Linked DNA regions of Homo sapiens: regions 2, 3, 4, 5, 6 and 7 are each reported to be linked to region 1. Evidence: microRNA targets listed by miRTarBase, many of them from high-throughput screens and not tested one by one. Region 1 holds a microRNA gene; each other region holds the end of a gene's coding sequence.
The links. The annotated mature microRNA hsa-miR-3941 reads UUACACACAACUGAGGAUCAUA and lies in region 1 at 1,452-1,473, opposite strand. An mRNA with a match to its seed (bases 2 to 7 or 8) in the 3' UTR can be bound and repressed. Matches are read on the target gene's strand: a 7mer-m8 pairs with bases 2 to 8, a 7mer-A1 pairs with bases 2 to 7 and ends in A, and an 8mer does both.

Region 2: miRTarBase lists SYTL4 as a target of hsa-miR-3941. Seed matches in the 3' UTR shown: 7mer-m8 at 2,552-2,558, 7mer-m8 at 2,544-2,550 and 7mer-m8 at 2,518-2,524.
Region 3: the mRNA of CLEC4D is a reported target of hsa-miR-3941. Seed matches in the 3' UTR shown: 7mer-m8 at 1,367-1,373 and 7mer-m8 at 1,387-1,393.
Region 4: the mRNA of TRMT112 is a reported target of hsa-miR-3941. Seed matches in the 3' UTR shown: 7mer-m8 at 4,044-4,050.
Region 5: the mRNA of ART4 is a reported target of hsa-miR-3941. The part of its 3' UTR that is shown has no 7-base or 8-base seed match.
Region 6: the mRNA of LSM14A is a reported target of hsa-miR-3941. Seed matches in the 3' UTR shown: 7mer-m8 at 2,674-2,680.
Region 7: the mRNA of UGT2B4 is a reported target of hsa-miR-3941. The part of its 3' UTR that is shown has no 7-base or 8-base seed match.

Annotation. Positions count from the first base shown.
Region 1 is chr10:122,413,926-122,418,496 of GRCh38, reverse strand. MIR3941 (microRNA 3941) reads right to left here and starts at 1,532; the gene lies at 1,430-1,532. PLEKHA1 (pleckstrin homology domain containing A1) reads right to left here. Exons shown (of 12, transcript NM_001001974.4): 7 at 2,495-2,638; 8 at 529-597.
Region 2 is chrX:100,673,378-100,677,943 of GRCh38, forward strand. It overlaps SYTL4 (synaptotagmin like 4), which reads right to left. Exons shown (of 20, transcript NM_001370165.1): 20 at 1,114-2,799. The coding sequence ends at 2,651. SRPX2 (sushi repeat containing protein X-linked 2) reads left to right here. Exons shown (of 11, transcript NM_014467.3): 11 at 1-2,411. Among named protein-coding and RNA genes, the nearest start is that of SRPX2, 31 kb to the left of the region's middle.
Region 3 is chr12:8,520,068-8,524,638 of GRCh38, forward strand. It overlaps CLEC4D (C-type lectin domain family 4 member D), which reads left to right. Exons shown (of 6, transcript NM_080387.5): 5 at 159-274; 6 at 1,057-2,299. The coding sequence ends at 1,204. Among named protein-coding and RNA genes, the nearest start is that of CLEC4D, 8.8 kb to the left of the region's middle.
Region 4 is chr11:64,312,737-64,317,307 of GRCh38, forward strand. TRMT112 (tRNA methyltransferase activator subunit 11-2) reads right to left here. Exons shown (of 4, transcript NM_016404.3): 2 at 4,528-4,571; 3 at 4,322-4,411; 4 at 3,724-4,232. The coding sequence ends at 4,125. It overlaps ESRRA (estrogen related receptor alpha), which reads left to right. Exons shown (of 7, transcript NM_004451.5): 3 at 1,215-1,331; 4 at 1,503-1,631; 5 at 2,005-2,175; 6 at 2,265-2,534; 7 at 2,971-4,007. The coding sequence ends at 3,230. Among named protein-coding and RNA genes, the nearest start is that of TRMT112, 2.5 kb to the right of the region's middle. RefSeq lists an enhancer at 3,327-3,842.
Region 5 is chr12:14,826,716-14,829,715 of GRCh38, reverse strand. ART4 (ADP-ribosyltransferase 4 (inactive) (Dombrock blood group)) reads left to right here. Exons shown (of 3, transcript NM_021071.4): 3 at 254-3,000. The coding sequence ends at 345. Among named protein-coding and RNA genes, the nearest start is that of SMCO3, 14 kb to the right of the region's middle.
Region 6 is chr19:34,225,933-34,230,503 of GRCh38, reverse strand. It overlaps LSM14A (LSM14A mRNA processing body assembly factor), which reads right to left. Exons shown (of 10, transcript NM_015578.4): 10 at 1,216-3,139. The coding sequence ends at 3,116. Among named protein-coding and RNA genes, the nearest start is that of GARRE1, 26 kb to the left of the region's middle.
Region 7 is chr4:69,477,242-69,481,812 of GRCh38, forward strand. UGT2B4 (UDP glucuronosyltransferase family 2 member B4) reads right to left here. Exons shown (of 6, transcript NM_021139.3): 6 at 2,924-3,669. The coding sequence ends at 3,393. Among named protein-coding and RNA genes, the nearest start is that of UGT2B4, 16 kb to the right of the region's middle.

The DNA.
Region 1 (4,571 bases):
TTAATACCTATTTTAGTAGATAGGTACTTTGAAACTATGTAAATATCTCATTCCTCATCATATATACAGATATACATTCATTCACCAAAAAGTATTGTTTCTCTGAAAAGACTTGGCTTCTATTATACTTAATATAGTTCCTGATTTTATAAATCACTGTGTATGTGACCATTCTCCCATCTCTGCCACCACCCCTTCCCCATGTGGATGCCCTTCTCTCCCTACTCCACGTGGGGCTAACCCCCCAAGAGGACAGCCCCTTTAGAGGAAATTTATAGACTAGAGGATTCTGAGATCTTCAGATCTTTCAAGGTGGAATGCTGCTTTGAAGATAGGATCTTTTTACTTAAAAATGTATTTAAGAAAAATATCATTAACCAAAAGCATCACAACCAAATAAACTATATTTACCTCTAAAAACTAGACTTATTCTGAAACTACAGAACAGTACAAGAAATTATATATAATCACTACATTGCAACACTTTTCAAACATTCTTATAGCAACATTTATGACGTAACAACATACCAGTTCAGATTTGAAGTAGCCTATTGTGTTTTCATCCAATTGAAAATATCTTCTCTTCCAGTTTTTCATCTACCAGAGATGAACACAGACATAAGACTTGTGTTTCTAAGAATGTCAAATGTTAGTCACCACTTAATTACCCTGATATGAACCCACAATCAGACATGCCAAGCAGTGAAAAATCTCATTACTTCCCTTAGAGATGCGATAAATTAAACCTCATCCCTCTCTAGCTACCCAGGCTTTGAATTCCTAATTCAATTTCTGGTGCCTGGCTTTCATCTTTTATTGTATGATTTTATGTGTTTTTTTTTTTTTTTTTTGAGACAGAGTCTTGCTCTGTCACCCAGGCTGGAGTGCAATGGCGCGATCTCGGCTCACTGCCTCTGCCTTCTGGGTTCAAGCAATTCTCCTGCATCAGCCTCTCGAGTAGCTGGGATTACAGGCTCCCATCACTATGCCCAGCTAATTTTTGTATTTTTAGTAGAGACAGGGTTTCACCATGTTAGTCAGGCTGGTCTCAAACTCCTGACCTCAGGTGATCCGCCCACCTTGGCCTCCCAAAATGCTGGGATTACAGGCGTGAGCCACCATGCCTGGCCTATTTCATATTTTTAATGTTGAAACTTTTTTTTTTTTTAAAAGCACTTCCCCTTCCTCCTACTCCTCGCCCCCGCCAACCCCATGTAAAGAGCAAACACAGGAAATGTTATTAAACCACATCAAGTTTCTCCATCTGTAAAAACATATGAATTCTTCCACAAGTACTTTATACATAGTAGTAAAGCACTAAATATTTAATAAAGTAAACCTATTTTGTACAAATATTTTTTGTCAATAAAATAACAGTTTTTGCAGAAGCACTTAAATATCTCTGACTGGTATTTTGGACTTAAGAGTAAAACAAAAAGGAACCATCAGGCTATGATCCTCAGTTGTGTGTAAAATTAGGGCTTTCAATCTACACACAACTGAGCATCACAGCCTGATGAGAATTCTGACTCTACCTGCAGACATTGTACAGTAAGAAACCCCTGCCCTCACCATCATTTTCCTCAGCCTAAAGCAGGTCAAACAGGTGAAAGGACATTCCCCTGGCTGCCCTAAAAAAATTAAGAGTTGCCAAAAAGTGATGAGAAGTCAAACAGAACCACCAAAATAATTTTAAGTATTTCTTTACTCACAGACTTAAAAAACATTTTCAAACTTTAAAGTTAATTTTCTCATGAAATTCTAAAGATTTAGTTCACATAGAAAGAATGGCTTAGATACTAAGGTATGTTGCAACCTTAGAAATATTGGTAAATTTACTTGCTCTTGCAAAAAATTCATCATGGAACTGATTATATGGGAATACCTGGGCTAACCCATAACAGCTTTTACTAAGTACCAGGTGCTGTGCAAAGGGAAACACACCTTTCTTATTTACATCTCTTAAAAAACAAAAACAAAACAAAACAAAACCCTAGATGGTAGGTTTTATATGATATTCCTTAAGACAGAAACTGAGGGCCTGAGAGGTTAAGTAAGTAGCCCAAGGTCAGAGAGCTTACCACGGAGGTCAGGCCAATGCCTAAACAAGGAAGAGACCTCCTAGGCACCACTCCTTCTCCTGCCGCTGGCCTGCCATCTCCCCACAACAGCTCTCTTTCCCTGACCCACTCCTGAGTATGAGTAAAGATGAATAGAAACACTTTCTAAAACATTAAACTGTTAGGAAAGCTCATTTAAACTGAAAGTCAGTGGTAATGGGCATTAACTTTCCTGGCCCCCTGCAAACCAAGCAAATAACAGCATTGAATTATAAACAGAGAATATCCCCTATTTTATCTCCTGACTCTCCTCAGCATGCCGGTCTCTCACTTTGGGTCTTTCATAAAATAAAGCAAACAATTTCCATGTTAATTTGAGTTTGCTAGAACGTAATCCTTTTTCATTATTTCATGTATTTTGTTAAGCTACTCACCACTGCTCCTTGTTTTACACAATATCCAGCTTTGATAACCGCACTATCTTGAGGTGGTTTAGGAGTAAAGTAAGGAAGATGGCTTTGTGACCGTTTCAGATTATTTCTGTCAATACTTTCACCACATTCATTTACTTCTTCTTTCTAAAATGAAGCAAAATAAATAAATTATTTTCTTGCTTGTTTAGCATACTTTTATTTCATATTATCCCAGTAGAAAATCTTAAAATCCACCTTAGATTAGTCAGAAACAGATTTTTGAAGAGTTTTCTAATTAATCTGAGATACTTACTCTTAATTTTCCTGTCACTGATTAAAGCACAAATTTCCATTCCTCTTGTTTTGCACAAGTCCTGCCACCAGTGCTCTTTTTTGGGGAAGGAGTTAACTTTTTATTTTGAAATAATTATAAGGATTCACCAGAAGCTGCCCAAAAAAAGTACAACAGGTCCTATGTACCCTTTCACTAGTTTCCCCTCAAAGGGAAACGGCGTAACATTATCAAAAAACAAGAAATGGACATTGGCACAACCCACAAACTTTATTCGGATTCCACCAGTTTTACATACATTCATCTATGTGTGTCTATACAGTTCTATGCAGTTTTATCACATGTGTAGATCTGTGTAACTACTACCACATTTAAGACCCAGAATTGGTCATCACCCCAAGGCTCCTTTGTGAACTTTAGAGTTCCTACCCCTAAATCCCCTGGCAGCCACTAATCTGTTCTCCAAGACTATAATTTTGACATTTTGAAAATGTAATGTAAATGGAAGCATACAGAAGGTTATCTTTTGAGATTATCTTTTTTCACTCAGCATAATTCTCTAGAGATTCGTCCAGACTGTTCCTTGTATCTAGAGTTCATTCCTTTTTATTGCTATATTTCCATGGTATGGATGGATGACCAGTTGTTTAACTGTTCACCCATTAAAGGACATTTGAGTTGTTTCCCACTTTTAGCTATTAGGAAAAAAGCTGCTATCAACATTCATGCACAAGTTTTTATGTGAATGTAATTTTCCCTTTCTCTACGATAAACACCTAGTCCTGCAAATGCTGGGTTGTACAGTAATCACAAGCTTACTTTTATTATTAAAAAAAAAACAAAACATAAACACTAAACTGTTTTTCAGAGTGGCTAATTTTCATTCCCACCAGCAACACCTGAGAGATTATGTTTCTCCTCAACCTTGGCAGCATTTGTGTCGTCACTTTTATTTCAGCCATTCTGAGAGGTGTGCAGTGATCTTTTATTGTGCTCTTAATTTGTATTTTTTCCCTGCTAGCTAATGATGGTGAACATCTTTTCATGTGCTTACTTACCATCTGTTTATCTTTTATCTTTTGATGAAATATCTGTTCATGAATTTTCTAATTGGATTTCTTGGGCTTTTTACTGTTGGGTTCTGAGTTCTTTCTATGTTCTAGATAAAAGTCCTTTGTTGGACATGTGGTTTGCAAATATTTTCTCCCAGTTTGTAGCTTTTCTTTTCATCCTCTTAAGAAGGTCTTTCATAGAGCAAGTATTTTTTATTTTGATGAGGTCCAATTTACCAATTTTTGCCTTTTATGATAGACATATATTATTTTATAATTTTTAAAACTATACTACAAAATAAATGATGCAATAAAATTATACCCTCCATAAAATCCTAGAAACTACTGAAATATCTATACCAAAATTACAATGCAACAAAATCTTAACTCTAGACAAAATTAAAACAGCCACAGATACAAACTAATACAGTGTCTTAACACAACTACAGGAAAATAGTCTTACCCCTTATGTCAACATAGGTCATAATACCAGTGAAAGAAGCTTAATCTAGGTACATAGTAACCAGAAGGTTAACAGTTTAAAATCATTACTTTTGGAAAAAGTAAACACACAATCCTAGCTTATTTTTTTATCCAACTTTGGTGGAAAATGTATGCTCTATGACAGCAGGGAATTTCTGTTCATTAACATACCCTTTGCCAAGCATAAAGAAAGCACTCAATAGTTAATTAATTAATTAATGTTGTAAGATTTCTAATCCCACTAATCACCCTCCCGTAGCAAAAGACCTGA
Region 2 (4,566 bases), not on the chromosome of region 1:
TTTGAAGATGAGGATTTGAGAAATCCCAACTCCTAAAGTAGGGGAGAGACAGCAGCAGAATATGACCCACAGCCAGACCCAAAGGGGCTAGCCCGACCCCTGTATATATTGTACCTCTCTCTCTGCCCACCTCTCCCCCACTTCTCCCCACTGCCCCATTCTCTCTTATCCTGCCTATTCCTCTCCCCTATTTCTCTGTCTCTCTCTCTCTCACATACACACACACTCACTCACAAGCAGTACAGTCACTAAGTTGGCTAGGTAATATCCAAAGCATTCTGATTGTCCTACTTTTTGTAAATTGAACTTATTTAAGATATTTTAGAAGAGATGAGTCACGTCTTCCTTTGACCCTTCACCCATAACACACATACCATTCTCACAGGAGGCCACATGGTGCAGTAGAGTCAGACTTTGATTCAAAGCCCAACTCTGTCACGTGACAGTAGGCTTGAGTTTCCTCATCTGTAAAAAGGGAAGATTTCCTACTTCATAAAGTGGTTGGAGAAATTAAAGAAATAGTATATGAAGCCTTGCACATAAAAAGCATTTGATATATATTAATGCCCTTTTGCACAAGAGGTCAAGAATTGCTTGGGTTCTACCTAGAAATCAAGAGCCTTATTTCTGAGCTGGGTTACTTGGCACCTGTGTTATTTCTCTCTCAAAACTACATAATGGTAGGAGGAGTAAAAGAAAAAGTCCCCGCCTCCCAGAGAAATTGAAGGATCCAGAAAGAAGTGCTTATAGCAGGGAATGTCTCCCCTCACCTCCTGTATGAACATCTCTCTCCTTCCTCCAGTATAGGAGGGTCTGCAAAGCTAAAGGAAGAGTTCCTTTGTTACAAGATAGAAAAGTGGTGCCACTTTAAAGATGATTTCTCAGTGTTCTCCTTAGATACCAAATACAAAGGACGAGGGATCAAGCTCAGCGAAAGTATCAGGCATTTAAGGTATCAGGCAGCAATGCGGGGAAAGGTGAATTTTCTTCAATCAGCATAGGATGGTTAGGGAAGAGCATTTATCACTTTGGTTCTTATCCTTCAAGCCAGGGGAAAAGCAACAGTGAGGACATCAGAGACAAAAGCATTTATAGAACTAACAAACACAAACGTTTGACAAGTGAGAAAGCTTTATTAAAGCACACATACATGTCAGGGGGGTGGGAAACAAAAGAGCAAGTTACAGCCCGGGATCCCAAGTTATGCCTTCCATTACAATTGCAATCCACACCAAATCAATCTTTGAAAACATTCCTCCATTCGGTTCATACATACAGTAGAAACCACTGTGGCTGCCCTTAATCCAGTGTGCTTATAGGAAATCAGTTAGCAGCTGACTCTGTTGAAAGGGATTTCCTCTCTGCTATACACTCCTTCCACACACAACTTTGGGTAGAAACGCTTATGAGAATAGAAAGGTCAGTTTGATCAATGAGTACCAGAAGATGAAACTTAGCTCACTAGACCCTTCTTTGAAAAGCCTCAACACACTACACCCATGTAATATGTAGGTCAAATTTAGGAAACAATAGCAAAAACAGGAACTGAAAGCTCATCAAGCAGGAAGTCAGAATAACAGGGAGACTCTGTCTACATTCCCTTAGAGCCCTTAACAGTCCCCAGCCTGGAGAAACACTGGGCCAATTGAGATAACACTTGGCTCTTCTGGTTGACACAGTGGGATGTAGACCATGCTCTGTTTGATAACACACCCCAGACGCAAACACTAAGACAGATGTGGTACATGAGGATGAATATATCTCATCTTTCATTCGAGAAATGAGGAGCTCTCTCTCCAATGACTGCAGTATCAGTTTAAAATGCAGAAAATTCAGCATGGGCTGTGAGACACTTTACCCTCAGTCACTCTGGTCCTCTGAGATCAGCTAGAAGCTCTCACTGGGCATCCTCGTGATTTAGTCAAAATACATTATCTAATTAAAGTGCTTTTCAAAAGCAGCTCCATTATAAGAGTCCCCCAAAGGTCTAGTAAAGATATCTAGAACTGGAAAAAGCTTGGGAATTCTGTTAGCATTTCAAAGAAAAGCATTAGACCAAAGCAAGGTGGAAACTGCTTAAAAACTAGAAAAGTTAAATTTAAAAGCCAAGTTCCAGAAGTTTATCCAGGTAGAAAATAAGTTAAAAGCATAAATTGGAGAGGAGAAAGAGGAAGGAACTACTCACCTCTCCCCAACATTCCTGTCTTTACTAACCAACCCTGCTTCCCAGAGCCTTAAAACCCAGACTGGTCCTAATGCGAAAGGTAGCCAGGGCTTCCTAGGGAAGTAGGAACAATGATAGCAAGACAGAAGATAAAAAGTTGTTTTAAAAGCTGTTTTTAAGTTAAGTGAACCTTATAAAGACATAAGAAAAAATGGACTCTGAAAATAAACTAGATTATACACAGAAACATTTTAAAGAAATGCTTATTCTTGAGACTGCTTTAAAAAGAAGAACAAGTCTGCATCACTCTAGCCAGCATAATGAGATTTGCAGAAAATACATGTTTGTACACATACACACACACACACACACACACACATACACACATACACACATACACATTAAATTATAAATCTTTGCTCTTGATTTCTTCACTTCCTCTGACCTGCCCTCGCCAGGGCTGGACCTGCAGAAGAGGACAGGGACTCATAAACCCAGCTTCTGCTTGGCCATTGAGGAACGGAGCTGCAGAGTCCCTTCTGCCCAAGACCCTGGGTACTGTCGCATCTTCTGCCACAGGCTCACTTCTTCCCCAGTCGAGTCCATCCAGTCCACCACTTCCCCATTACTGATCCCTGAGGAGAAACACCAGAAGAGGCTAAAGAGGGGCCCCACTCTCAGCCCACCAGGGAAGATGGGTTGTACAGCAAGATTAGCCACCCCATAACAGTTTCCTACGAAGATGGGCTAATGGCCACAGCAGTCTGGGAAGTGCTCCCTCACCTGTATTCCTGAGACTCTGTCAAGAGACTCTGGGTTGATGAAATCAGACTCCAAATGGCACACAGTCACTAGAGACTTCTTATTCTGAGGCTGTTACAGAGTTCTAGTGCCTGACAACTCATGCCAGAGCTATTGCCAACTGTACTTAAACATTTTTCTTTTATTATTATTATTAATTTGAGACGGAGCCTCGCTCTGTCGCCAGGCTGGAGTGCAGTGGCACAATCTTGGCTCACTGCAACTTCTGCTTCCTGGGTTCAAGCGATTCTCCCGCCTCAGCCTCCAGAGTACCTGGGACTACAGGCCTGCGCCACCACGCCCAGCTAATTTTTTTGTATTTTTAGTAGAGACGGGGTTTCACCATGTTGGCTAGGATGGTCTCGATCTCTTGACCTCGTGATCTGCCTGCCTCAGCCTCCCAAAGTGCTGGGATTACAGGTGTGAGCCACCGTGCCCGGCCAACTTTTTTCTTTTAAAGCTAAACACCTCTCCTCTAGCTGCAGACTCCAGGTCAGAAGTGAGGATCGTATGTGGCCCCATTCATATTCTCTTATATATTCATCCATTAATTCAGCAAACATTTATTGAGTGCCTACTGTGTGCCAGGTACTCTTCTAGGCTCTAGAGACACTAGTAAACAAAGCAGAAAAAGTCTCTGTCCTCAGGCAACTTTCATTTGAATAGGGAAGACAGAAAATATACAAGCAAACCAATAAGAGTATTTCAGACAGTGAGGTTAACATTATGATGTAAATAAACAGGGTGATGTATAGTGACTGACTCAGGAACTACTGTGCAGATGGAGTGGTCTGAGGACTCTCTGAGAAGGTGACATTTGAGCCAAGACCTGAAGGATAAGAAAGAACCAGACTTTCCATTCAGAGAAAACAATAATTGCAAAGGTTCTGAAGTGGGAATGAGCTTGGTATATTTGGAGAGCAGAAAGTCATTTTGGTTGAAGCATAGTGAGCAAGGGGAAGAGTGATACAAGACGGATCAGAAAGGAACAGAGGACCCAGGTTACACAGGGGCCTGTAGGCATGTTAAGAACTTTGGATTGTTTTCTAAGCACAACAGAAAGCCACTGAGGGGTTTTAACAGGGGACTGACATGAATTGGCTTACATGTGTAAAAACATCAGTCTATATGCTTCATGTTAAATATTCTGTGTGATTATTAATATATAAGTATATTAATAGACAAGTGCAGAGACTAGGGAGAGGGCAAAGAAGAGGATCCGAGACTAAGCTCTGCCAAGCACCAACATTTAGAGTTTGGGTATAGAATGCAGCACCTACAAAGAAAACTGAGAAGGGGTGAGCAGTGACTTAAAAGGGAATCAGAATGCAGTGTCAATAGAAGTTCAGCGTTTCAAGCGAAAAGGAGTGATCTAGCATGTTAAATAGTGCTGAAAATTCTAGTGAGATGAGAACAACACTTTGGCAAGAGCAACTGCTCAGCAGAGTGGTGGGACAAAAGCCAGATCACAGTGAAGGAGAGCTGAAGGAGAGGTGAGAAGTGGAGACAATTCTTTCTAAGAAACTAGAAGGGGAACGTGTAGTCAAGGAAAGGTTTGTTTTTGTTTCATAAGATTGGAAATACCAGAGCATATCTGTATT
Region 3 (4,571 bases), not on the chromosome of region 1:
CACTTACTAACATTACAGGCAGGATTTGAAAACAGATCTATCTGATGCCAGAGCTTTTGTGCTTAACCAGTAATCTAGTTGACATATTTCCTCTTTTTCCAACATCATAGCCATCACCTGATTCATGCAACTATATTAAAATTTACATTTTTATGCAGAACTTTATTATTCAGTTTCTGGATAGACGGCTTTCCTATTTCCTTGGACTTAGAGATGAGAATGCCAAAGGTCAGTGGCGTTGGGTGGACCAGACGCCATTTAACCCACGCAGAGTGTAAGTATATTGAGTGGGCTAAGGGGATTTATAAGCAAAGGTTAGAAGATGGTAGCAAGAAACATTCATTTTGAAGTGGAGTACATTGATATAAAAATGTTAAGAGAGACCACTGTAGGTTGAGTAATCTCCATATGCTATGTCCCAGTTCCAGAATGGTCCTATAATTTGCATGCAATTTTCAGTATTCTTATTTGCACAATGTCAATAATGAAAGAATGAATAGCATAGAAGTGATATAAAATTTGTTTTAGGCTTGACATTTAAATAAACAATATAAGCGATAAAAATTTTCTTTGAAAGAGAATCAAAATCTTGTCATTTTCTTTCTTGAAGCCAGTATCGTTTAGTAAAAATATAATGCAAAGCCACATGTGCAATTTAAAATTTTTTGTTAGTTATATTAAGAAAGTAAAAAGAAGCAAGTGAAATGTATTTTAATAACGTATTAATAATGTATTTAACCCAATATATCCAAATCTTATCATTTCAACATGTGATCATTATAAAATTATTACTGAGGTCTTTGACATTCTTCATTGGCACTAAGTCTTCAAAATACAGCACTTAAGACTTAAAGCACATTTCAATTCAGAGAAGCCACATTTCAAGTGCTCAGTAGCTACATGTGTCTAGTGAGTATAGTATTAGTGCAGTTCTAAACTGTTCACTAGGGACATTTCTCTGAATTGTCTCCTAATATATCTATATCTAATCTACACCTATAATCTACATTGTCTATATATACCTATAAATCTCTATCTATGTTGTTGTTCTTTCAGATTCTGGCATAAGAATGAACCCGACAACTCTCAGGGAGAAAACTGTGTTGTTCTTGTTTATAACCAAGATAAATGGGCCTGGAATGATGTTCCTTGTAACTTTGAAGCAAGTAGGATTTGTAAAATACCTGGAACAACATTGAACTAGAAACTCAGAAAGTGGTCCTTGTGATGGAAAGAGAAAAGAAAAACCAATTAGAATAAGGCAGAATGTACGTGCGTCATTGGAACACAGAAAACATGCTGGTTCATACAGCGTTTTTAGTCATAATGGTCTTTTTTATTTTGTTTGATTCATTCGAGACAACATGTGTGTATGTGTGTGTGTGTGTGTGTAGATAATGTGGTTTTTGTATGGTGTTTGATGGAAGGAATAATCTTTCTTTGCTTTCTTAGTAGTATTTCAAGGTGTTTACTTTTCAATTGGTGTGCACTGAATGCATGTATGGAAGAATAGCGTGAATAATGCAATCTCTTTGTCATTTTTCCCCTTCTCAGACTCTTAGCTCTTAAAATTCAAAGATGGGATATTCTAACTGGTAGTGGTGCATCATTTTTAACCCAAATATTGCAAGCACTTTAAAGATTTGAAACCACATTTTTATTGTTTGATGTTTCATTTTCAGACTTTTTAATGTCAGTCATTACAATTACATTGCATGAGGAAAATTTTTCCAGAACAACAGTGTGGAATAGTTCTGAATTATGCTGTTCTACAGATAGAAAAAAAGTCCAAATGCCTTTAAAAATTTACTTCTTACTCCACCCAACACGTTTTTGCAAAGCAAGAAGTCTTTGTAAGACACCTTAAACAAAGTCCTTCAATTCTACAGCAGAGGAAATAAAATCCCCCAGAAGCCAAAGGGCTCACCTTCACATTGTTAGTTCATGACAGACCCAGGTGTGCTTCATTAGAGATAACATACATTCCCTTTGGTATCACAGGAAGTTACTGGGGATTACTCGACCTCATTACTTAGCTAACGACTGGATAAAATTTCTTAATTGTTTGAAGTAACATTGTATTCGTGTTTGCATTATTAATTTGAATAGAAAATAATCACATTTTCAACCCATTTATACAAATTGTTAATGTTTCTTTAGAGCTGTATAACTATAGTTTGAACTAGCAAGGAAGTTATTGTTTTGACAACCAGAAATTATGCTTTTCTGGTGCATGAAACATTAATTGCAAAGGGCAGTCACATCCAACTTTAATAAAATATGGTGGTCTTTCTTAAAATTTTCAATTTGCTAATTTTTCCTGGATCTAAGCTGAAAAATTCCAAGCAACAGCTTTTTAACCTAACTTTCCTACTACTGCTTTTAAAAGCAGTATTTATTTTGTAAATTAGCTACTGATTTTTTGGGTTTGAAATACTGGTGTTTGATTGTGTGGTGGTGGTGGTGGTGATGGATGCGTGTAGCTGTGTTAAAAGCTGATACTTTTAGCTGAAATGGTGCTAAATAAATTTGACTGTGTTTGCCATATTCACTAAATTATGTAGCATGAAACCTATGAAACTTGTTGAAGTAACTTTATGTAAATGCTAGTGGGCTTCGTATAGTTAATATTATCCATTTTTAATTTGTAAAGAACTATATATAGGTTGAGCTTCAGTTGTCAATAAGTCATGAAGTTTTGCCCATGCCTGTGTCCTGAATGGTATTACCTAGGTTTTCTTCTAGGGTTTTTACGGTTTTGGGTTTTACATTTAAGTCTTTAATCCATCTTGAGTTAATTTTTGTATAAGGTGTAAGGAAAGAGCCCAGTTTCAGTTTTCTGCATATGGCTAGCCAGTTTTCCCAGAACCATTTACTGAATAGGAGATCCTTTCCCCATTGCTTGTTTTTGCCAGACTTGTTGAATATCAGATGGTTGTAGATGTATGGTGTTATTGCTGAAGTCTCTGTTGTGCTTCATTGGTCTATATGTCTGTTTTGGGACCAGTACCATACTGTTTTGGTTACTGTAGCCTTATAGTATAGTTTGAAGTCAGGTAGCATGATGCCCCCAGCTTTGTTCTTTTTGCTTAGGATTGTCTTGGCTATACAAGCTCTTCTTTGACTCTATATGAAATTTAAAATAGTTTTTTCTAATTCTGTGAAGAATATCAACAGTAGTTTGATGGGAATAGCATTGAATCTATAAATTGCTCTGGGCAGTATGACCATTTTCACAATATTGATTCTTCCTATCCATGAAGATGGAATGTTTTTCCATTTGTTTGTGTCCTGTCTTATTTCTTTGAGCAGTGGTTTGTAGTTTTCCTTGAAGAGGTCCTTCACATCCCTTGTTAGCTGTATTCCTAGGTATTCTATTCTCATTGTAGCAATGGTGAATGGGAGTTCATTTATAATTTGGCTCTCTGCTTGCCTATTGTTGGTGTAAAGGAATGCTTACGATTTTTTCACATTGATTTTGTATCCTGAGACTTTGGTGAAGTTGCTTATCAGTTCAAGAAGTTTTTGGGCTGAGATGATGGGGTTTTCTAAATATAAAATAATGTTGTCTGCAAACAGAGACAACTTGACTTCCTCTCTTACTATTTGAATATGCTTTATTTCTTTCTCTTGACTGATTGCCCTGGCCAGAACTTTCAGTACTATGTTGAATAGGAGTGGTGAGAGAGGACATCCTTGTCTTGTACCAGTTTTCAAAGAAAATTCTTCCAGCTTTTGCCCATTCAATATGATATATTGGCTGTGCGTTCGTCATAAATAGCTCTTATTATTTGAGATACGTTCCATCAATACTTAGTTTATTGAGAGTTTTTAACATGAAAGGATGTTTAATTTCATCAAAGGCCTTTTCTGCGTCTATTGAGATAACCATGTGGTTTTTGTCTTTGGTTCTGTTTATGTGATGGATTATGTTTATTGATTTGCGTATGTTGAACCAACCTTGCATCCCAGGGATGAAGCTGACTTGATTGTGGTGGGCAAGTTTTTGATGTGCTGCTGGATTCAGTTTGCCAGTATTTTATTGAGGATTTTCGCATCAATGTTCATCAGGGATATTGGCCTGAAGTTTTTTTTTTGGTTGTGTCTCTTCCCAGTTTTGGTATCAGGATGATGCTGGCTTCATAAAATGAGTTAGGGAGGAGTCCCTCCTTTTCAATTGTTTGGAATAGTTTCAGAAGGAATGGTACCAGTTCTTCTTTGTATTTCTGGTAGAATTCAGCTGTAAATCCATCTGGTCCTTGGCTTTTTTTTTTTGTTTGGTAGTCTATTAATTGCTGCCTCTATTTCAGAGCTCGTAATTGTCTATTCAGGGATTCAACTTCTTCCTGGTTTAGTCCCGGTAGGGTGTATGCATCCAGGAATTTATCCATTTCTTGTAGATTTTCTAGTTTATTTGCTTAGAGGTATTTATAGTATTCTCTGATGGGGGTTTGTATTTCTGTGGGATCAGTGGTGATATCCCCTTTATCATTTTTTACTGTGTCTGTTTGATTCTTCTCTCTCTTCTTTATTAGTCTAGCTAGTCGTCTATCTACTTTGTTAATTTTTTC
Region 4 (4,571 bases), not on the chromosome of region 1:
AGAGGCCAGGAGGACTCTGCAAAGGGATTTGGCATTATCACAGGGTGGCCAGGGAAGATCTTCAAGGTGACAGTGAGCAGAGGGAGGTGAGGGAGCCTGTGTGGACTTCAGGACTAGAGCTCCAGGCAGGGCCTGTTTGAGGAACATGGAGGAGGCGAGAGCAAGGAGTAGAGGTCAAAAGGAGGCAAGAAGCAGGGGCGTAGGCCTAGGAGGACATAGGTTCGCTTTGGCTTGGACTCAGAGAAGGGAAATCCCCAGAGGGTTTTGAGAAGAGGAGGTACAGGATGTAATGGAGGCTTAATAGGACCCTCTTGGCTGCTGAGTCGAGAACAGACTGGAGCAAGCAGGGACAGCCAAGCGAGGGGCGAGGTGACAGTGACTATCAGGTCAAGGGTGGAAGTAGTTGCCAGGGGCAGGAGGCGGATTCTGGACCTTGGAGGAGGTAAAGCCCACCAGAATGTGTCGGTGGCTTGGATGTGGGGTGTGAGAGGAACCAGAGATTCTGCCTAGGTTTCTTCTTGGGCAAGTGAACACGTGGAGTCCACGTAGGCTGTGTTCGGTCCGAGATGCCTTCTAGACATGCAGGATGTCAAGGAGGCAGCTGGAGAGATGGGTCTGGAGCTCACAGCAAGTCCAGGCTAGAGGTAGAAACGTGAGAGCCCCACGGCTGGGGAAGATTGCCATGGGATTGGAGATGAGCTCCAAGGACAGCCCTGGCAGTCTGGATGGAAGAGCTTGGGAAGATGCTCAGAAACCACAAAGTGGCTGGTGCGGTGGGAGGAAAACCAGAGTGTATGCTGTCCTAGAAGCAAAAGAAGAAAGTGTTTCAGTGTTTCTAGGAGCAGGAAGTGATCAACAGCCTTAGATCCTCCTTTTAGGCCAAGTAACATGAGGACTAAGAATTGACCACTGGATTTAGCAATGCAGAGGTCCTTGTGGCCCTTGATGTCGGCAGATGAGGGCAGTGTGGTCCAGAGATGAGGCTTGGGGCTGAGATGCAGCCCCGCTGCCTGGTCCAGCTCCTCCCTCATCCAGGCAGGGCTCCCCCGCCCAGCAGCCACTCCCCTCCCTGCCTGCTCATGGCCCCCTGCTCTCCCTTTCCTCCCCATACCCCCAGACCTGTGCTTGCCCGGGGAGAGTCAGGGCTCTCCTGTCAGCTGGGTCCCCTCCCAGCCCCGGGAGGCCGCCACTGGAGCCCTGCCTCTTCCTGGCAGGGAGCATCGAGTACAGCTGTCCGGCCTCCAACGAGTGTGAGATCACCAAGCGGAGACGCAAGGCCTGCCAGGCCTGCCGCTTCACCAAGTGCCTGCGGGTGGGCATGCTCAAGGAGGGTGAGCGCTGGGCAGGGGCTGGGCGAGGGCTGGGGGAGTCGGGGACCCGGGCCAGGTGGGGGTGAGGCCTGGGAGTTCTGGTGAGTGGACTCGGGGAGGACAGCTCTGGAGAGCAAGCCCCACCCTGCCCACAGCACCACAGTCACAGTCCTATCTGTCCCACAATTCAAGGAGTGCGCCTGGACCGCGTCCGGGGTGGGCGGCAGAAGTACAAGCGGCGGCCGGAGGTGGACCCACTGCCCTTCCCGGGCCCCTTCCCTGCTGGGCCCCTGGCAGTCGCTGGAGGCCCCCGGAAGACAGGTGAGAGCACTGTGGGTACCTGGGGCTACGAAACCGGAGGCCTATGTGTGGCATCATAGTTACCTTGGGCACTGGGACCTGTATTTCCCCTTCGTCTCTTCACTCACTCATTTCCCCAAGACATGTGAAACTGCCTTTTCCTGCATCAGGAAAAGTAGTAGAACTGGGAACAGGGACGATTTTCCAACACTCACAGCCTGTCCACAAACACACGGGCTTTCCCTGGGAGACAGTTAGCGCTCTTCCCTGGAGGGAAGTCACTGGACAGCTGCTACTGAGGAAGGCCACAGGGGGAGCCACTGTGGGAAGATGCTTGACCCCTGAGGCCTGACAGATTCGAGTGCTCCTGACTCTTGTCCTCTAATTGTCACAGCAGCCCCAGTGAATGCACTGGTGTCTCATCTGCTGGTGGTTGAGCCTGAGAAGCTCTATGCCATGCCTGACCCCGCAGGCCCTGATGGGCACCTCCCAGCCGTGGCTACCCTCTGTGACCTCTTTGACCGAGAGATTGTGGTCACCATCAGCTGGGCCAAGAGCATCCCAGGTAAAGGGCCCAGGTGACCCGGGGCTGCCCTGAACGGGCCCGGCTCTGGTGCGCTTGCTCAGCCAGGCCCGCTCCCCGCTGCCCCCTAGGCTTCTCATCGCTGTCGCTGTCTGACCAGATGTCAGTACTGCAGAGCGTGTGGATGGAGGTGCTGGTGCTGGGTGTGGCCCAGCGCTCACTGCCACTGCAGGATGAGCTGGCCTTCGCTGAGGACTTAGTCCTGGATGAAGAGGGGGCACGGGCAGCTGGCCTGGGGGAACTGGGGGCTGCCCTGCTGCAACTAGTGCGGCGGCTGCAGGCCCTGCGGCTGGAGCGAGAGGAGTATGTTCTACTAAAGGCCTTGGCCCTTGCCAATTCAGGTGAGTCTGGGGCAGGCACTGACAGGTGAGGTGTCTCCGTAAGGTCTTCAGGTTAACTCAGTGACGGTAGCACAGCCCCATTTTGCAGATAACGAAAACTGAGGCTTAGGGAAGAACAATGACTTGCTAGAAGTCAAAAAGCAAGCCAAGTGCAGGCTCCAAACTGCACACAGGATTTTGAGCCCTAGTGCCACACTAATGCAGAAAGGTCATTTAGTGGGAGGGAAGGTGGGGAGGGTACAAGGTGGCCACAGTTGAGGGAGAGAGGGTGGGGTCCTGGCCCACGAGCCGCAGCAATGAGTGGTGCCTCTCAGTCAGCCAATCAACAAATCCTCGTTTGGCTCTTCCTTAGGCCCCATCCAGCAGTGCTCAAGATACGGGGAGTGCCCTTGCCAGAGATAGCCCAGGCCAACACCACATTCCTCTCTTCTTGCAGACTCTGTGCACATCGAAGATGCCGAGGCTGTGGAGCAGCTGCGAGAAGCTCTGCACGAGGCCCTGCTGGAGTATGAAGCCGGCCGGGCTGGCCCCGGAGGGGGTGCTGAGCGGCGGCGGGCGGGCAGGCTGCTGCTCACGCTACCGCTCCTCCGCCAGACAGCGGGCAAAGTGCTGGCCCATTTCTATGGGGTGAAGCTGGAGGGCAAGGTGCCCATGCACAAGCTGTTCTTGGAGATGCTCGAGGCCATGATGGACTGAGGCAAGGGGTGGGACTGGTGGGGGTTCTGGCAGGACCTGCCTAGCATGGGGTCAGCCCCAAGGGCTGGGGCGGAGCTGGGGTCTGGGCAGTGCCACAGCCTGCTGGCAGGGCCAGGGCAATGCCATCAGCCCCTGGGAACAGGCCCCACGCCCTCTCCTCCCCCTCCTAGGGGGTGTCAGAAGCTGGGAACGTGTGTCCAGGCTCTGGGCACAGTGCTGCCCCTTGCAAGCCATAACGTGCCCCCAGAGTGTAGGGGGCCTTGCGGAAGCCATAGGGGGCTGCACGGGATGCGTGGGAGGCAGAAACCTATCTCAGGGAGGGAAGGGGATGGAGGCCAGAGTCTCCCAGTGGGTGATGCTTTTGCTGCTGCTTAATCCTACCCCCTCTTCAAAGCAGAGTGGGACTTGGAGAGCAAAGGCCCATGCCCCCTTCGCTCCTCCTCTCATCATTTGCATTGGGCATTAGTGTCCCCCCTTGAAGCAATAACTCCAAGCAGACTCCAGCCCCTGGACCCCTGGGGTGGCCAGGGCTTCCCCATCAGCTCCCAACGAGCCTCCTCAGGGGGTAGGAGAGCACTGCCTCTATGCCCTGCAGAGCAATAACACTATATTTATTTTTGGGTTTGGCCAGGGAGGCGCAGGGACATGGGGCAAGCCAGGGCCCAGAGCCCTTGGCTGTACAGAGACTCTATTTTAATGTATATTTGCTGCAAAGAGAAACCGCTTTTGGTTTTAAACCTTTAATGAGAAAAAAATATATAATACCGAGCTCAAAAACACTGTGTTTGGTGTCATTGGGTCAAGGGTTGGGGATACACACGGCAGAATTCGGAAACAGGGTATAGATCAACAAAAATACACAGTCATAACAAGAAAAACTGGCGCCTGGCACAATCAACTCTCAGTTTCCTCTTCACTCAGCAGCATGTTGGGGATCCCGCGGCTGATGGGGAACATACGTCCAGATTCCGGGCACTGCAGGGTGCCCTCTATCACTTCCACCTGCGGGCAGGGAGGGACAGAGCTGAGCACTGGCAGCCTCAGTGCGGGAGGCAGGTGGCCCGGGAAGCAAGTGATGGGCCGCTTCTCACCTCCAGCAGCAGGTGGTGCATGGTCCTCAGAAACTCCTCATTCTCCTCATATCCCTCAACCGGCCCTTTCGGCACCTGGATCAGACGCAACTGTGGGCAAGAGGCCAAAATTATCTCCGGGCATCCCGAACTCCCGCCTCAGCCCGGCTGAGGTGTGCCCGCCCCGCATTCCCCGGGATATGCTGGGGCGGGGTAAGGATCCTCACGTTATCGGCCGCCTCCAGGAACGCCGACCACTCCACTTTAGGTA
Region 5 (3,000 bases), not on the chromosome of region 1:
GAAAATTAGATCTCTACCACCAGCTGGCTGGGTTACCTGGGAGTACATCTTTTAACCTCTTGGTGTCTGTTTCATCATCTGCAAAATAAGCAAGTTATGTTAGAAAAATCTAAAATAATGTGTTTTAAGTAGCTAACTTCAAATGTTTTTATTAGGAATTTTCTAAGTTAAGTAAGTGGATCAATGGATAGATGAGGTAGTTTTAAAAAAAACTCTGCTACCTAAAATATTTCCTTTGTTTTGTTTTTTACAGCTTCCAGCAAGAAATGCATCCCTGATCCTATAGCTATTGCATCTCTCTCCTTTTTGACCAGTGTCATCATCTTTTCCAAAAGCAGAGTATAAAGAAATCTTGTGGCTCCTTTTATTTAAAAAAAATATTTAAATAAAATCTTTTTTATTGGCCTTTTGGCTAGAAATGGACATTTATTTTCCAGGAAGGATGATCCCATCATACTTCTGCTGAAACCAGTGCATGGCCTCCTCTTTGCTAATTCTCTTATGCCTTTCCTTGTACCCCTTTGCCTTATTTCAATCTGGGCACCCTAAGTACTCTTGGGGAAATCACTCTGCCCAGCTAGCAACTGATGCAGAGCTGGCTCAGCCCACTGACTGTGATTGGCCTGTAACTCAGGCCTTAGCCAATCAGTATATTTCTTCTTCATGGACACAAAGATTCATGCTGGAATAGAAAATGATCCAATCAGAGCCTGTGAGATACAATCAGGGTACTTTTGTGGAATTGCAATTGGAAATAGAATGGGAGCTTCTTTTCTGAATGGATATTAATGAAAGCAGGGTAGGAGCTTATAGCTGCCAGCAAAGATCCCGCCACCAGGAGAGGAGACCCCATCTCCTTGAGAAAGGATCTAACACAACAAAGGAAGAGCTGATAAGTGAAAAGAAACTGAGACCTGATGAGAATGTATAAGCCTCTGGATCCAACTTTGCCTAAAGCTGAATACTACAAGATTTTTCATTACATAAATCAATAATTTATGTTTTTGCTTGCATAATTTGAATTAGATTTTCTATGTCAAGCATCAAGCAGTTGAAGTTCCAACGAATACAAGCACTCTTCCTTATTTTTTTTAATTTAGTTATTCTAAATAGGAACAAATCAAAGAAGATTAAATTAGAAAGCAAAGGACAAATTCTTCACCAAACAGAAAAGCTTTGAACCCCAGAGATTAACCAAGGTGTGAATTTTCTTCAGAGATTTTTTATGAGCATTCAAGATTAAGCTAGTATGGCCTCAGATGAGAAGACACATGGAAACTTGAGAAATAAAAGGGAAAGTTAATGAAAGATGTTAGTGAAATTTCATTCACCAGCAGTAATGGGTGTTCATGCATGTTCCTAAGACATTACAAAAGTTAAAATTTAAACTCATATGTTAATTCATAGAGAACTTGATGGCAAATTTAAGTCTTCATAGCAAATTTAAATATTAGGAAAACATGAGGGTATGTGTGAAGGTTAACAGAGAGTATGAGAGAAAAAAACACTGATTACAAACAAATATCAGCAATATAGCGAGGTCTCATTACATGTAAACTAGTACATGCAAAGAAGTATAAATTGTTGAATTGTATAGCTGGAAATGTCCTCTAACGCTTCCCTCAGGTAGTAATTTAGGTAGCGACATAAGGGATTATTTAACCCGATCACGATCACTGAAGACCCTGGTATCAGGCTAAATGGAGTAAAGATGAGGGCTAGCTCTATAATTTTGGATTTTGAAAGTCCATGCTCCTTATCCCTTTTAAGATTTGGATAAGAAACAGCAAAACTGAAAATCGGTCCATCTATTTACTCTCCATAGGACTTCCTGAATGGCCTGTGTCATGATCAAAGAAATGGAATGGGGAATAAGCTACATAAAATTACCTGGCAGGGAGTTCAGGCATCTCTGTACTATCATTCTTTAAATTGGGATTTGAAACTAACAGGGCCAAATCACCTCTGTCACCTAGTTGCAGTAGCCTCTACAGTCAATAAAGGAAAGAATTTCTGCCAGGCATGGTGGCTCACCCCTGTAATCCCAGCACTTTGGGAGGCCGAGGAGGACGGATCACGAGGTCAGGAGTTCAAGACCAGCCTGGCCAGCATGGTGAAACCCCGTCTCTACTACAAATACAAAAATTAGCCAGGCATGGTGGCACGCACCTGTAATCCCAGCTACTTGGGAGGCTGAGGCAGGAAAATTGCCTAAACCCAGGAGGCGGAGGTAGTGCAGTGAGCCAAGTTCACACCACTGCACTCCAGCCTGGGCAACAGAGTGAGACTCGATCTCAAAAAAAGAAAAAAAGAAAGAATTTCTACAAACAGACAATTTATGTGACTTGCATAGGATAGGGTCTTTGGCAGTTTGGTGGCTACCTAGTAGAGAGTCCTGGGGACATGGCTCTGGGAGCAAGCTTTTCCAGTGAGCATCGATGAGTCAGTAATGACATGCTATGTTGGTAAAAGCCACCCAACATCTTAAGTACATTTTTCCTGTGCCATATAAATGCATGTATTGAGCCATACTGTGTACAAAGCACTTTGGGGATTAAAAGTTAAGAACACTAGGCCAGATCTCTCATGAGTTTACAATCTCTTAGGAGAAATTAAGAACATAAAGCAAGCCACAAGTGAAATGCCAAAAAAAAAAAAGGCAAAAATCAAGTTTTCTGTTCATAACAATTCAAAAGAAAGATTTCTTCCAACTGAGGCAAGAAGAGACACCCGGAAGGCTTTAAGTAAGAGGCTGCATTTGAACCAGCCGTTAGGGCTCTAGGCTGGGAGAAGGGGTGAGCAGAAGGAGAAAAAAACAAGAAAGAGTATGTGCCAAGTGCGTAGTGCCCAAAACAAGGCCAAATATTAAATGCTTGGAGCTGAGAGAAAAATGTGATTCCTCTGGCCTATGGTTAGATAAAGCTTTCTATCAGAGATGATGTTTTACTTAGAGGAAAGCAGAAAATAGAAGCGAATACGGAATGATCGATGTATGTACAG
Region 6 (4,571 bases), not on the chromosome of region 1:
GCTACAGGAAGTAAGTTCCCTTTATTATTAATATTCCCAAGCGGACAATTTCCTAAGTAGTAAATTTTTTTTTTCAAGTTGGCAGGAAATAATTTCCCACTTACTGTCTTTCCATGTGGAGGGACTTTAGCCAGTGTTTCTCAGAGTAGAGGAGCACTACTGCACTTTGGGTTGGACAACTGATTGTGTGGCACAGCACAGGACATTTACCATCCGGGCCCTTACTTTTAAATACCAGTGGTGATCCCCAGTGATTGTGACAACCAAAACACATCCCCTCACATTCCTCAGTACTCACGCACCACTTAATGATGTTTTGGTCAACGATGGACTGGGTATACAATGGTGGTCCCAAAGATTATGATACCGTATTTTTACTATACTTTTTCTGTTTAGATATGTTTTAAATACAGAAATACCACTGTGTTATGACTGCCTACAGTATTCAGTACAGTAACATGCTGTACAGGTTTGTAGCGAGGAGCAACAGGCTACACCATATAGCTTAGGTGTGGAGTAGGCCATACCATCTTCATTTGTGTAGTACACTCTCTGATGTTCACACAATGATGACATTGCTTAACACATTTCTCAGAATGTGTCATGGCCGGGCCTGGTGGCTCATGTCTGTAATCTAGCACTTTGGGAGGCCAAGATGGGAGGATCATTTGAGCCCAGGAGTTAGAGACCAGCCTGGGCAACGAAGTGAGACCTCATTGCTATTTAAAAATAAGAACATGTCGCTATTATTAAGCAACAGATGACTGTGTTCCTAGGATGTCAGGTAACCCCACCGAGAGCCACTGTGCTGCACTGCTGTTCCCGACCTCTTGCCCTACCATCACATGAAGCCCAGCTTTTGGAGCGAACTGTTTTAATAGACAGATTCTGCATCTTCTTCATGCGTCTGCCCACAGGGAGTGTGTTCTGGCTGCTGTTTCCAGCCTGGCCTGTGCCTGGGTGGCTCAATCTCCTCATGTCACGGATCTGATCTCAGAAGTATTTTATTTACACACAGGAGGGGAAGGAAGGGGCTTTTAGCTTTCCCTAAACATCTGCAACAATAACTCAATCTTAGAAATAAAGTAACTGATTTATAGTTATTACAGGGAATACAAACATTATAATTCCGCTCTTCCATTTAAAAGATTCCTTTCATTATGTTCCTACTGAAACAGAATGTTACTATTTAAAGAGAAAGAACTTTGACGAGCATTTTTTATTGAACAGTTTTATTCTGTTTTAGAATAAAAACTTTGCTTTAATATTGTAAGGGGTACTGCAGGTATGCCATGCTGCCAGTTATTGCTGGGGCACAAAACGCCCCAGTCAGTGATTCGGAGGGCTGGGAAAACGCATAAACTCATAATTTCAGAGCAAGTAGAACTAGTATTTACAGTTTTCTTTCTTGAAATTGGCCCGGGACATCTCCAACAGTCTACACATGTATTGCCATGGTACTTGCTCTGATGCTCTGAATGCCTCGGAACTGTGTTCAATATCATGATTTGTGGGTCCTCTAAAAGGTTTTGTTGTTAACATGCAAGCAAACAGCACTGAACAATATTGTCTAAACTATGGCTGCCAAGTACTGGATCTTCATAATGAAACCAAATTACAAAACACTGCCTTGTAGAGCTATACAAAAGATATAAAATGAAAATAAAAAATGTCAACCAGCCTTAAATATTCCAATTCTCCTACAGTGCAGTTTCTATATCTTTATCACTACTGAATGTTTTAAGGAGAAAGTTAAGAAAACAATCAAAATATTAGATAAAAATATTTAAATCTTTGGATCCTTTTATTCCATGGCCTTCATAAAAACACAAAAGTGGCCAGATTTTTCCCACTAGAGCTTAAAATATCAAAAAGATTCACTAGTAATTTATAATTAGCAATGAACTCTATACTGAGTCATCTGTGGGTCATCATAGGCCCAAGGACCAGTGTTGCCGTGTGTTACAGGCTACCAAAATAATTTCTAGCACTCTGAATCCTCTTGAAATATGATGGAATGAGTCAAGGTATCATGACTAAATTCCAGGCATAATAGGAAAAACAGGTTCATTGATGCCTAGTTTTAAAGTCCTACAAAAGGGGGGAAGATTACTTATTTGAAAATACAGCTAAGTACATTCTCATCTGTGATTATTTACATTTGTATACTGAAAATATCGATTATCTGGACAGATCCTGTGATATGCCATTTGCTACAAAATGAAGTTCTTACAATGAGCATGAATAATTAATCCTTTTTAGATAATGAAATAATGTATCAAATCTTCATTTATGTTCCAAACATTAAAAAACAAAATCAAAAATGTTAAGCCTGGAAAACTAAGAAAAAAAGACCCACCCATAAGGCTGCTGCTCAGCACATCAACTTCTGCAAGGACACAGTATGTTTGCTGACTTTAAAATGTTTATTCTTTAAAAAATTAGTTGCTTTTTATACAGCTATACAAAGTTCTTAATGTTTCTTTGGCAATGGAATATAATGGAATTTTACAACTATATAAAAAAGTTACCTTTGCCTAAGAAACAGTATTTACTGTGTGTACATAGTTGACTGACAAAATTCTCTACCATCCAGCACCCTAATTAATTGACGAAATAAGCTACCTCATATTACAGGATTCCCCAAAAGAAAGGAGGAAAAAGACACACACATACACACACACACACACACACACACACACACACACACACAACCTTCTGTGGCTCAAAACACAGTATCACGGCCCTATCTGCAGGCAACTTGCAATTGCCAAATACAATTTAGTGATAAAAAAAAAAAACCTTTCAGTGATGAAAAAATACTTGTTAAGTCCCACTGAAGTACTGCTTTAGTTTAACTATACATAAGAAATTACTTAACCTTCTGCTATTCCAAATATATTTAATGCTCATGTTTTAAGATGAGCCTTCCACCCCCAAAAGTAACTGCATTTTATCTTTGAAATTAAGCGGAAAAACAAACAAAAAACAAAAACCCAGTGCTGGTGACAAATGTACAGCGAATTCACTTCTTCATTCTTTGCAAAGACTGAAATCAATGTTCAGGACCATGAAGAGCTAGAAATTCACCTATTTTCAGAGACTTGTTTGTAGACTATGCAGCAACTTTGTTGTCTTTCTAAAAAAGAAAAAAAAATTTAGCTCATGTTCCAAATTATTGGTGTATTATTTTCTTTTTACTTTGCTCAAGTTTATTTTAAATTATCTTTAAATATACTCCCCCACTTTTACTTTCATAGAAAAACCTGTCTCACTCATTTCCACGAAACTCCTTCTATAACTTCCATACTCAGTAGTACCTCATTGTTGACTGCATCTTCCAGTCAGTAGAGGTTAATGCAGTGGTGAACCCCACCCCAAAATACAGGCATACTTCCTCATCTTTGGTTGTTCTCCCTAATAATTTTTTAAAAGCAGTGATAGGACTTAAACCCTCAACTCAATAGTCAAACTCATCAAATACAACTGTCAACATACTTTGAAACAAGTTTCATAAAATCCCCAAGTCTTTGATGTCTTTACTAAGCAATAAAATACCCAGTCAGTATAACATTTCTCTCCAAAATTTCATGCCAGGAGGAAGCAATGGTTTAAAAATCAATTTTACAAGGATAACTCTTAAATCTGAAATAAGCTCTGAAAAGTAGAAAGCTGACTGGGGAATTTTTAAAAAGTAACCAGTGAGGAAGCAATAAAAATCTCAAGATTTCCAGAGAGACTGACCCTAAACTAAAGGCCTGTACAAAGGGCTGGAGCCAAGGGCTTTTATTTTCCTCTAGACCAGCTGCTACCATATACCTGGTTTTTACTGCTGATTCTCACCCCAACTGTTAGAAACAGACATTTCCTAGGTGAGACTTAACTTCATCTGTGTATACAACACCAAAACATTTGCACCCCGTTATTAAACTGAAATACATATGGTATGGCATAAGTTGACAGCAATGAGCTACAAGATGAACCTGCTGTCCCCCACAAAGCCAACCTTCACACCTCCCAAAGTATTTGTTTTTTTTACCTTTCAGAAAGCAGTACGATCAATCCAGACCTTTTAGGGTCCAAAAGCTGTGGTTTTCTGAAAGGTAAAAAAAAAAAAAAAAAAAAAAAGAGAAAGAGATGGGGACAGGAGAGGGAGAAAGGAGAAAATGAAAGGGGGAGAGGAGAGAGAGCATTATGCTGAGTCATTCAGACACCTTGTTGTCTTTGAACCCCATCTGAGGAAACACAGATGTGATTTTTATCACCCACCATGGTGGCTTAACCTCCCTGACAGCAGCATATAAAACAGGAGCTGGTTACATTATTATTGCTAGTCCTGATTTCCATTCTCACCTCAAAAAAGAATGGGCGGTGGGAGGGGGAAAACACCATACAACCAAACTTACCATAAGGTTATATTTCTTTCTTTTCTTTTTTTTTTTTGAGACAGGCCTCGCTCTGTCACCCAGGCTGGAGTGCAGTGGTGCGATCATGGCTCACTGCAGCCTTGACCTCCCAGGTTCAACTGATCCTCCTGCCTTAGCCTCCTGAGTAGCTGGGACTACAGGCAT
Region 7 (4,571 bases), not on the chromosome of region 1:
GTATCAGTTCCTGGATGATTTGTATGAAATATTCTGTTATAAACTTTTCCTATAATTTCTCTAGCATCAATGTTATACTGTGTGTGTGTGTATATATATATATATATAGTCATGATTTATATATACATATATAAATATATATACATATGTAGTGAAATATATATATATAATATTTATATTTAAATCATTCCTTAGACTGGAGAATACTTGTGTGATAATTAGTAAATAGTAAGGCTTCTTACCAGCAAAGACAACTAAGTTTTTGTCCATCTGGACCACTTTTATCATAAAGTGCTTCCCTGATGTGTATATTAAAGAAGGTTTATGGCTTGATTTAGCTATTTTCCACAAAATTTATAAACTCATTGTATACTTTGTACACTTTTTGTCATCCTAAAAGATTTCATGCTTCTATTTTATATTTAGAGAAGAAATGGATCAAAAGACCCTGTGGAAAAAGAGAAAAATTAGAGATGATTATTTGAAGTATAGTATGTGGAATATAATTATTATTTCAAACTGTCTTCAATAAACACATTGAATTTTACCACCTATCTATTAGGTAACTAAATGATGCAGTGTCTTATTTTAAAAAAATGGACATGTATATGTACATGTATGTTTAGCAAGATTAAAAATACACTTAATCCCTTCATAATGAAATTCCTATATTATTACAACCAAAAATTAAGAACTTAACATTTGTCATTAAAGGTGAAAAATGAGAATAGAACCCACAAGAAATTTAGAATTTTTTTTTGGTTCTGTGAATAAAGATGATGGTATTTTAATGGAAATTACATTGAATTTATAGATTGCTTTTGGTAGTATGGTCTTTTTCACAATATTTATTCAAGCCACAAATGAACACAGGATGTGTTTCCATTTGTTTGCATCATCTATGATTTATTTCAGAAGTGTTTTGTGGTCTTCTTTGTGGAGAACTTTCACCTTCTTGGTTAAGTATATTTGTAAGTATTTATTTTATTATTATTATTATTATTGCAGATGCTTTAATAGGGGTTGAGGTTTTTATTTGATTCTCAGCTTTGATGTCCACATAGCCCAAGTAAGACTAAGCAAAAAAACAAACAACAACAACAAAAAAAACACACATCTGGAAGTGTCACATTACCTGACTTCAAACTATACTACAAGGCTATAGTTAACAAAACAGCATGGTACTGGTATAAAAACAGGCATGTAGACCAATGAAACAGAATAGAGAATTCAGAAATAAAACTAAATACTTATAGCCAACTAGTCTTTGACAAAGCAAACAAAAACATAAAATGGGGAAAGGAAAACCTATTCAACAAATGGTGCTGGGATAATTGGCAAGCCACATGTAGAAGAATGAAATTGGATACTCATCTCTCACCTTATACAAAGATCAACTCAAGATGAATCAAATAATTAAATCTAAGACCTGGAAGTATAAAAATTGTAGAAGATAGCATCATAAAAACTGTTCTAGACATTTGTTTAGGCAAAGACTTCATGACCAAGAACCCAAAAGCAAAGGCAACCAAAACAAAGTTAAATAGATGGAACTCAATTACACTAAACAGCTTCTGAACAGCGAAAGAGATAATCAGCAAAGTAAACAGATAACTCACAGAGTTAGAGAAAATCTTCACAAACTACACATCCCACAAAAGACTAATATCCACAATCTACAAAGTGCTGAAACAAATCAGCAAGACAAAAACAAATAATCCCTCAAAATGTGACTTAAGGACATGAATAGACAATTTACAAAAGAAGATATACAAATGGTGAATGGCCATAGTTTAAAAATCCAAAAATAATAGATGTTGGCATGGTAGTAATAAGGGAACACATTTACACTGCTGGTGGGAATGCAAGCTAGTACAACCACTATGGCAAACAATATGGATATCCCTTAAATAACTAAAAGTAGAACTGCCATTTGATCCAGCAATTCCACTGCTGGACATCTATCTAGAGGAAAATAAGTCATTATATGAAAAAGACCCATATACACACATGTTTATAGCAGCACAATTCACAATTGCAAAACTGTGGAACCAGCCTAGATTCCCATCAGTCAATGGGTGGATAAAGAAAATGTGAGATATATATATATATATATGTGTGTGTGTGTGTGTGTGTGTGTGTGTGTGTTTGTATACACATACATATATAATTATATATATATACACATACATATATAATTATATATATCTAATATATATTATATATAAATATCACATTTACTTTAGCCACTAGTTGGGGAATATATATATATACACACACATATATTATATATATATATATACACTACTCAGCCATCAAAATGGACAAAATAAACCTGGATGGAGTTGGAGACCATTATTCTAAGTGAAGTAATTCAGAAATATAAAACCAAACAATGTATGTTCTCACTTATAAGGGGGACCTAAGCTATTAGGACATAGAGGCATAAGAATGATATAATGGACTCTTGGAACTCAGAGGGAAGGGTAGGAGGGATGTGAGGGATAAAACAGTACACACTGGGTACAGTGTATACTTCTTGAGTAATGAGTGCACCAAAATCTGAAAAATCACCACTAAAGAGCTTATCCATGTAACCAAAAACCAGTTGTCACCCAAAAGCTATTGAAATACCTAAAAAACAAAGAATAAAAAAAGATGAATATTTTCAAATGAACAGAAAAATAGAATTGGCTCAAAAAACCAAACGCATTGTAAAATTAGTTCATTTTGTAGTAGAAACCAGGTAGGAGTTGCTATATTTCTAATTCCACATACTTTTCACTGGGAAATGACTTAAGCTCTAAAATGGTAAGCATTTTTATCATACCTTTTAGGAAAAAAAATGACGTTGAAGCACGATGCACAATAAAAGCCAAGCAGCACTAATCATCTCAAAATATCAAGAGGAAGAGACTTTCTATACAATTTAATTATTTATTAGCTTCCTCAACAACAGTTAAAACAACACAATCCTGCATGAAATGGATCCAAAGTATGCTGAGTATTTGCAAAACAGTACTGATACTGTCAGTGGACTTCTTAATGTTCTTGTTTCCATGTACAATGTGTGACATGTAGTTAAGCTTAGTAAATTTTTTTTCATGTAACCTGTGAATTGGAACAATAAATTTCAATATAAGCTCAATACATTTCAATATAACCTCATATGGCTTTATATCATTTTTGTTTTCCCTAATGTTTTCCTCCTTGACATGAAATATTTCTAATGGTTAAACAGGTACTAAAACAAATTTTGACTTGACAAGGTAAGTTTTGAAAGATGTTTTGTCACAAGAAGAAAGGAATCTCTTGTATCACAACGTCTTCTTGTTGTAATAAACTAAAGGAGTTCATTTATTGGGTTTCCCAGCTTCCAGCCTCAGACGTAATTAATCTCTTTTCCCCTTCTTTCCTGTTCTAACAAACTTCCAGACACAAAACAGACATTTTGTGATGATGAATATCACAGTTGCCACACAGGCCAGCAGGAACCCAGTCACATCCAAAGAGTGGTACTGGAACCAGGTGAGGTCGTGGGCTGCAACCCGAAGGTGCTTGGCTCCTTTATGGCGCATGACAAATTCAATCCAGAAGACTGCTCGATCAAGGGGCTTCACTGGTTGATCATGATGAATTCTTGATAATTTCATAGCATTCTCTTTATATCTAAACGATAAGCAGAAAAGTATCAACATTGAAAGTAAGTTAATTTGGCCAGGCACGGAGGCTCACACCTGCAATCCCAGCAGTTTCCGAGGTCGAGGCGGGCGGATCACGAGGTCAGGAGATCAAGACCATCCTGGCTAACACGGTGAAACCCCGTCACCCCGTCTCCAGTAAAAATATGAAAAAAAAAAAAAAAAAAAAAAAAAAGATTACCCAGGCGTGGTGGCATGTGCCTGTAGTCCCAGCTACTTGAGAGGCTGAGGCAGGAGAATCGCTTGAACCCAAGAGGCGGAAGTTGCAGTGAGCCACAATCACACCACTGCACTCCAGCCTGGTGACAGAGTGAGACTTCCCTCTCAAAAAAAGAGAAGGTAAGTTAATTTGCCTGAGCACATCAAGTCCACGAAAGGTTTTTAAAGTGCCAGATCATTCAAAGTAAATGTCATAGAATTGACATAGAATGTGTGTATTTTAATTTGAGTCATCATAGAAAGTTTGGCTTTTAAATTGGAATTTCATAATTGACAAATATTTTTAAAGTAACAATGGAGGGTCAGGTGAGAAAGTTAATTATTTGAGGCAGAGAACATATGAGCAATTTTATTTTCTTTTAATTTTTAGTTTTTGTGGTTACATAGTAGGGGTATTTTTCTATGAGGTGCATGAGATGTTTTGATACAGGCTGCAGTGTGAAATAATCACATCATGAAGAAAGGCTACCCATTGCTTAAGCATTTATCTTTGTGTTATGAAATATCCAGTTACACTCCTTTAGTTCTCCAGCAGGCGTATAAAATCATGGTCAGCATCATGAGCCGTTTTAAGTGGTAAAAGATATACACCTTAAAATACAATTTGAGAATTATCATCTTTAAGTTTCTAAAGAGGAATTGTGTCATGTG